Linked DNA regions of Homo sapiens. The protein of the gene in region 2 purifies or fractionates together with the protein of the main gene of each other region. This does not show direct contact. Each region holds a gene or a part of one and is shown on either strand. Other genes may lie near its edges.

Region 1 (3,814 bases), on a different chromosome or scaffold from region 2:
ATATAAATGGTTAGATTAAATAGATTGGTTTTTGGTTTTCATGCTTATGAATTGTGATGCTTGTGAATGCCATCAGCCTACATCCTTGCATTTTAGAGTCTTTCTTTTGTAATTTGTTTGTTTATATCATTTGCCTAGCTAGTGGATGTCTTAAGTGTTTTTTTTTAGAAAGTTGATGTATATAAAATCAATTTTTATCTCTATATGTTTGTTATAAAACTTTTACATTTTGGAACTGTTAAATCTATTGCATTTTGCCTTGTAAAATTTCCCACTAGTTTTAAGTTTAGTATATCCATCCTTATTCAGAGTGCATATGAATGGTAAAGATAACATTTTAAATTTATCTGCGATGAGTTTTAGTACTTGACAAGGCTATATATTGATTTTAGTTTTATTTCTTTCCAATAACTAGCTAATTTTATTTCTAGACAAGCCCACTTGATATATATAACTACACGCACACACACACACACACACACACATCTCACCTATATTGAAAGAATAAAGTAAAATTAGTTGTATTTTGATTTGCATTGTGTGTGTTTGTCTTAATTCAATTCTTAGCCAAGTACAGAGTAGGTGCTTAATTTATGTTGTTAAAATAAACTTTTTAATGGAATTTAAATCCCAGGTTTAATTTTCCCTGAAGCTTAGCTGTACCCTGGGTCTTGGTTTCCATGAAACGCTTTTGATTATCCTTATAACACATTCCTCCGTGGCCTTAAGCTAGCTTGGTTTCTGTCATTTGTAACCAGAAGGGCTGAGTAACAGATCTCCTGTTTTCTAAACACCTGCTCAGTTCCAACTCACCATGACTTATTTTAGAGGGAGTGCCTTTCCATCCACATCGGTCAAGCTGGCATCCAGATTGGGGACGCCTGCTGGGAACTCTATTGCCTGGAACATGGAATCCAGCCAAATGGCGTTGTTCTTGACACTCAACAGGATCAGCTGGAAAATGCAAAAATGGAGCACACAAATGCATCTTTCGATACCTTCTTCTGTGAGACAAGAGCTGGGAAGCATGTGCCTAGAGCACTCTTCGTGGACTTGGAGCCAACTGTTATAGGTACAATAAATGTTCCATTCTAGCATACTTAACTGGAGCCACACTCAAACAAATCAAGTGGATGGGATTAGCAGATTATACAGGTCTATCTGAATGGAATCACATGGACCTTTCCCAAATGTAGAGGCTTACTCAGTGGCCATGGGTGATTAACATGACAAACACACCCAAAGGGAAGACCAGATTAGTGTTTTTGAATTTAAATTTATTTATTTATTTATTTTGAGATGAGTCACTCAGGCAGGAGTGCAGTAGCGTGATCTGGGCTCACTGCAACCTCCGTCTCCTGGGTTCAAGCAATTCTCCTGCCTCAGCCTCTGAGTAGCTGGGATTACAGGCACACACCATCATGCCTGGTTAATTTTTGTATTTTTAGTAGAGATGGAGTTTCACTATGTTGGCCAGACTGGTCTTGAACTCCCGACCTCAAGTGACCCACCTGCCTTAGTCTCCCAAAGTGCTGGGATTACAGGCGTGAGCCACCACACTTGGCCTAGGTTAGCCTTCTTTACCTGTGTGATGAAATGAATTAAGACCTGCTAATTGATCCACACATATATCATAATAGAACACTAAGTCTTTTCCTGGGTTTGAGAGCCATTTGCTAGAAGGCACTGGCAAAGAATCAAAAAGTTTTTCGATAGCTGCTTAAAAAGAGTAGAATATTTGAAAAGAATCCTAAAGGAAAAAGAGGCCAAATATATACCCTAGTTATGGGAAAAACAGTACAATTTTATGATTACTAACAATAGACTTGTAGTATGTCATGCAAAAACTCTTGAAATGGAGCTAGAAAAATAAAGGAGAGAGAAGGGGCTCTTACTGACTTAAGAGAAAAGCTAGACAGTGGGGTAGATTTGGGTTTGATGTTGTGCATCCCATTATTTGTTGGCGTGTAATAAACTTCCCCTACATTTAGTGGTTTAAGGCAATAATGATTGCTGGTTTGTTCATGAATCTACAGTTTGGGTGGGGCTCAGAGGTGACAGCTCGCCTGTGCTCCATGTGGTACCAGCTTGGAAGGCTCAAGTGGGAACTGGGGCATCCACTTTGAAAGTCACTCATTTACATCGCTGCCCCTTGGTGCTGGCTGTTGACTGAGAGAGTGGGAGGGGTGGAGAAAAGGAGAGGCTGACGAATTCAAGGTCATGATAAGAAGGAATTGAATACAACCCCATAAACACTTCAGCTGGGTGATAGAAGTACAAAGATGAATAAATGTTGATTTTTGCCTTCGACGTGAAGATGCCTGTCTTGGTCAACTCGGACTGCTGTATTGGAACACCATGGACCCGGTGGCTTAGACAACAGTTGTTGATTTCTCACGATTCTGGAGGCTGGAAGTCTGAGACCAGGGTGCCTGGTGGTTGGCTTCTGGTGAAGGCTCTCTTCCCAGCTTGCAGATGGCTGCCTTCTCACTGTATTCTCATATGGCAGAGAAATAGTCTGTGTCTCTTCTTATAAGGGCCCTAATCCCATAATGAAGTCTCTACCCTTATGACCTAATTACTCACAAAGACTCACCTCCAGATACCATCACATCAGGGATTAGGGATTCAACGCATGAATTGTGGGGGGACACAGCCATTTAGTCCACAGCAGCTATTGTTTACTAGTTGGGGAACTGCACAGGTATTTTCCTCTAATTCTTTCAACACTCTGTCAGGAGACATTATTATCATCCTCAATTTATAGATGAGGAACTTTATAAATCTTGGGGAAGTCAAGGAACTTGCTTAAGATCACTGAGTTATTAGAGTAGAGCTGGGTTTGGTCCTAGGTTTGCCTTCTTATTAAATCTATTGTCTTTTAACAGGAAAGTAGCCTAATCTAGTGAATAAGAAAAAATAAATAGTTATAACAACACTGTTGAAATTGAGCCATATAAAATTGCCAGTATATGACTATTTTTTAATCTAAAAAAGTTAATTGTATTGTATATGATACAACTTAATAGACATTTCTACAACAAGTGTGTCCAATAATTTGACCTCCCTGGGACACATTGGAAGAAGAAGAATTATCTTGGGCCACACATAAAATATACTCACACTAACAACAGCTGATGAACCAAAAAAAAATATTGCAAAACGATCTCATAATGTTTTAAGAACGTTTACCAATTTGCGTGGGAATGCATTCAAAGCCATCCTGGGCTGCGGGATGGACAAGCTTGCTCTGCAAGGCAGAAGGAATGAATAACCGGGGAGTCATCCAATATGTTTGTTTGTTTGTTTGTTTTTTAGAGCGAGAGAGACTGGGTCTTGTTCTGTCACCCAGGCTGGAGTGCAGTGGCGTAATCATAGCTCAGTGAACTCCTGGGCTCAAGCAGTCTTCCCACTTTGGGGTCCTGAGTAGCTTGGACTACAGGCACATGTCACTACATGTGGATAAGTTTTTTTTTTTTTTTTTTTTTTTTTTTTGAGACAGAGTTTTGCTCTTTTTGCCCAGGCTGGAGTTCAATGGCACTATCGCTGCTCACTGCAACCTGTGCCTCCCGGGTTCAAGCAATTCCCCTGCCTCAGCCTCCTGGGTAGCTGGGATTACAGGCACATGTCACCATGCCCTGCTAATTTTGTATTTTTAGTAGAGACAGGGTTTCACCACGTTGGCCAGGCTGGTCTTGAACTCCTGACCTCCAGTAATCCACCTGCCTCGGCCTCCCAAACTACTGGGATTATAGGCAAGAGCCACTGCACCCGGCCAATTTTTTGTTTTTTATAGAGATAGGGTCTCACTATA
Region 2 (4,534 bases):
GAACTAATTACGCCACACTCCTATTCATAAGACACCTTGAGTTTTCCTTCTTTTCTGCCTCACTCACATTACTCATATTCCCATTACGCAGTCACTTACAGTACTACACTTGTGTGCATATCTGTCTCCCACTAGATTTTAAGCTGCTGGTGGAAGCGATGACTCTCCTCTCCAATTCCCAGTGCCTACTTCAGTGCATTTGCAAGGCACCAAAAATTCAAACTAGCAAAGACCCACAGTTCCAGGAGGTTAAAGAAACTCACGTGTAGCAAATAACAACAATTACAGCTAACAGTAATTGAGTGCTTATTATTGAGGTAGTAATAAGCACTCAATAACTGTTCTATGATAAGTTCTTTATATATTTTATCTCCTTGAATCCTTATTATAACCTTGTTAGCTAATGTATCAGTATTATCCCCATTTTATAATAAGATCCTGAGGCCCAGAGAGGTTGCGTTACTTGCCCAAGGGTTCACAGCAGTGTAGAGGCACAACTCAAATCCAGGAAGCGGATCCCTAAAACCCATGCTCTCTACCACTCCAGTTTGGCTGGAGAAAATTTGGTGTGCTGCTCATTCTTTCCACTCCCACTCTGCCAAATCCATCTACCCATCACCCTGTGGACACTTGCACATGTGGTAGCAAGCTGATCTTATCCTGGTATGGCTGCTCAAGTGCTATTCTGTGAAGGGCATCACTGAAGGAGTACGTCACCCAAAACAATTCTTCACCACCCCGCTACAGTGACAGAAAATCCTCTAGGAGGGAGCCATTCTTTATGCACCGCAAAATCCCTAGTTAGACCCCACGTATTAGCAAAAAGGTTAACTGCTTACAGTCATAAACATTTTGGAGTGAAATATTCAGATTACCCAGCAGGGCCTTGAGGAATTGAACCCATCCAGTTAAGGTTAGCTCACGCAAAAAAGAAATTTCAAGAAACTTCTAGTGTGTACCATCCTTCAACACTAGATCGAGGTCAGCTGCAAGGACAAGCCTTCACATATGTGTAGTAAAGGGAAGGGAGTCAGAGGACTAAGTCTGGGCTCTAAAGAAAAAAATTGCAGATGATGTGAAAAATTTCCATCTTCTGCAAAATGCTGCTTTAGAATCAGTCTTAAATAGCAGCACTAAAGTTATTCATCCACAGCAAAGCAAAAACCATAGAGCAGAGGGATAGGGGCCCATACCATTCATCTAGACAATACTGGTCTTCATCAAGTTAGAACCAACAAAGAGCTAGATAAAAGCCAACAAGCCAGTCACTGTCCACAAAGCAGATGTTCACGTTACACGTGGCATTACAGCATCAGGGAGAAGGATTCCTGGCACTTTTCACATTTGAAAGCACTCCTCCCACACTTGCTGGTCTGTTTTGTTTTAATACCTGTGCTTCCCCCTCTGGGGCCCTCAACCTCTCACAAAATGGCATTGAAGCTGCTTCCACACATGACTGGGTATCTTCGGCCCTGGGCCTCTTCAAATCAGGCAACTTCCACTGGCTGTCAGGGTGATGCATGAAATCCCTAGAGAAGAGAGGAAAAGGACCACGGCAGGGAGCCTCCTCAAGTGGGAACCACTGAGATTAACTCATTATCCGTTGGCAGGTAAGAAGAGCAAAGTCCCTGACTGGGCTGGTGACCATGGGTGCTGAGACACCCACTGGGGACAAGGACAACTTGTCCAGTTTCTTCACAGTTAAGGTAGCAGGACAACCATCTAAGATTTCCCAAACTTAAGTCGTTTGAGTGCCACTCTTCATGACTATTTCTACGTCTCCCTCCTTACCTTTACTATAATTTAGTAACCGCGTCTCTATCTTGACTAGATTTTTGCATTTAAATATATTTATTTTAAAAGGAAACTCTATCATTGTGAAACTGCTTACTTAATGGAACAGATTTTCTTAATAGTAACGAAAACAAGTAACTATGTTCATCCATATGCCACCTCAAATCATTGCTATTACCCCCAGTGGTGCCACCTACAGTAGCAGCTTTGGGAAGCACAAGCAACACCTGAGGGTTCAGCGTTCGAGCCCAGGCCCAATCGGCTTTTCTCCACCTCTTCCCCTTAACCAAAGGTCCCGGCAAGGGGACGCAGCAGCAGTCTGCACGACCTCACCCACGTCCTCTGGCCGCCCCTCCCCTCCAGCAGCACCAGGTTTCCTGTCAAAACAAACCCTTGGGGGAGGGGACGGCGGAGGCAGAGCTGAGTGCCGGGGAAACCACGGCAACAAATCCCAAACACACGCTGCCGGGCCCGCCCTGCCTCTACCCTGGCTCAGTTCCCTACTCCAGCCCGGCCGAGGAGTGTGGGGGAAGGGGGTGCCCTGGGCCCCTGATGGCGGGATGCCGCTGGTACCTGTCCAGCAGGATTTAAACAGCGGCGAAGCGGCCTCCGAGGCCCGAAGTCCGTGTCCACCCCGACACGCGGGGCGGCCACTCGGTGCCCCGCTCCCCGCTCCCACGCGGGACGGCAGTTCGAGGTCAAACAAGGGGACGCGGAGTGGGAAGACATGAACTAGGAGCCGAGCTTGATGGCCCCTGACCCCGCCTTCCCAGGATGGAGTTCCGAGATAGGGCAGGGGAGCCTTCGGGCTGCAGCGGTGTCCCCTCCGTTGGACCTGGCCGGTCACCTCCGAGCCGGCAACGCCTCCCCCGTGATGGATACGCACCGGGTCCAGCACGTAGACAAGAGGAGAACGGCGACGGAGTGACCCCGGGTCAGGGCTCTCTGGGCGTCCCCTCACCGAGCACAGCACAGTCACCTCGAAAACTCACCAGCCCAACAAACCCCCCCAGCCCCAGTGTCCCCCCCAACGCGGTATTTAAAGGGCCCTGAGGGACTCTAGGGAGGCAGCCACGGCGCGGCCATCACAAAACCGGATAGCGGGGGGACGACGGCGCGACGGGGCAAGGGGATCCAGGGCCCTTCAGTCTCCGAAAGCCGAGCGCTCACAGACTGAACCTATTAGAGAAACAGTCTTCGTCAGTTTGAACCAGAGAGGCCGAGAACAGCTCGGATGGGAGGGTGTTTCGGATGCGAGAGGGCACGGTTCCCCCGCGCGGCGAGTGGTGCGGTCCGGGCTGCCGGGGGCGGGGTGAGAAGTGTTTACGGAACTGAGGCCGCCGAGCCGACGGGAGCGCCCGGCGTTGGGGGCGGGGCCTGCCAGGGCACTGGGGGCGGGGCCGAGTGGGGGAGCGGGGGCTGAGCGGGGGCTGAGCGGGGGCTGAGCGGGGGCTGAGCGGGGGCTGAGCGGGGGCTGAGCGGGGGCTGAGCGGGGGCTGAGCGGGGGGAGCGGGGGCTGAGCGGGGCTCTGGGGAGGTGGGCGAAGCCGCGGGCCAAGCCTCCAGTGGAGTGCCGGACAGATCCCCTGGGCTTCCAGGCGCACTGGCGTGGACCACACTGCGAGCTCCCGGCCGCGCGTGGAACATTGAGTGCCCGCACACCCCTGTCTAGACGGGGCAATCGGAACTGGGTGCCCACCAACACACTGTCCACACTTACAGAGACAACCCAACCAACAACGCTGCTGGTGGGCTTTCCCACGCACGTCAGCCACTAACCGGGTCATCTCCAGTTGCGTCTACACCTCCACATAAACACGGGTCTAGATTTGCACCTGCACGGGACGATTAGCTCCTTGGAGTCACACCCATCCAGGCCCTCTGAAGACTTGGCGTGCGTGCAAAAGATAAAGCGTCTTACTTCCTCTAGGGTTCTTGGCAGCACCTATCTCCGGGAGAAGTTTCCACCTTGGTTAATGTAAATAACCAGTCCCAGGAGGGCTCTGTGCCGTCTGGCCTGCTGCTCAGCTCCTGCTGTGGGCGTGCTTGAGGGTGTAGAGAAACAAGCTTCCCCCAACTGTTCACATCAAAACTATGCCTTCTGCCAGGTGTAAATCGGTGCTGTATTACTTGGGAAATAGTTTCATGCAGGAACTACTTACATGAAGTTTGTATAGACTAAAGTATTTCTGTTTAGTGCCGAAATTATGTCTGGATTGTGGAGGCAGATTGGCCACCACCGTTCAAAAACAACAACAACAAACAACAGGCAACATTTTAAAGCAGGGTAGAAAGTCAGTTGTTCAGTGGTTACAACACAGACTCCTCTATGGTTCCAGTCCTGGCTCTGACATTCACTATCCATGAGATCTTGGTCTCTGGGGATAACAATGATAGCTATTTCCTTGGGTTATTTTGAGGATAAAGTGAAATAAAGCATGTGAAGTGCTTAGCAGGGTGCACAGTAAGCACTCTAAGTATTAGTTATTGAAATTCTTTGGCAAACCACTGTGGCCAAACTTAGCTGGTGATCTGTATAAATTTGTATCTGTGCCTCCTTTTGCCACTTTCCTCTCTTCTCCTAAAATATACAACCTAATAATACAGGTTAAGAGATTAAATAGAAGGTGCTGTCCCCACCTGAGTTCTTCCCTACAAACATGCTCTTATTTGTGTCATTCGTTGGATAAGTAATCAGAATGACAGAAGCCTCCAATTTCAATTCCTGCCAAATGACAACC

Evidence for each region.
Region 1: the proteins of TCP11L2 (region 2) and TUBAL3 purify together in Homo sapiens (affinity purification with mass spectrometry; one large-scale study listed by BioGRID and IntAct). This does not show direct contact.

The regions. Positions count from the first base shown.
Region 1 is NC_000010.11:5,398,102-5,401,915, reverse strand, and holds part of TUBAL3 (tubulin alpha chain-like 3), read left to right. Parts: intron 1-828; coding exon 829-1,072; intron 1,073-3,814. UniProt on the Homo sapiens protein: Tubulin is the major constituent of microtubules, a cylinder consisting of laterally associated linear protofilaments composed of alpha- and beta-tubulin heterodimers.
Region 2 is NC_000012.12:106,301,088-106,305,621, reverse strand, and holds the start of TCP11L2 (T-complex protein 11-like protein 2), read right to left. Parts: upstream 2,890-4,534; 5' UTR 2,681-2,889; exon of another isoform or gene 1,391-2,680; intron 1-1,390. UniProt on the Homo sapiens protein: Promotes the migration of muscle-derived satellite cells (MDSCs) during differentiation throught interaction with FMNL2 and therefore may participate in microfilament assembly.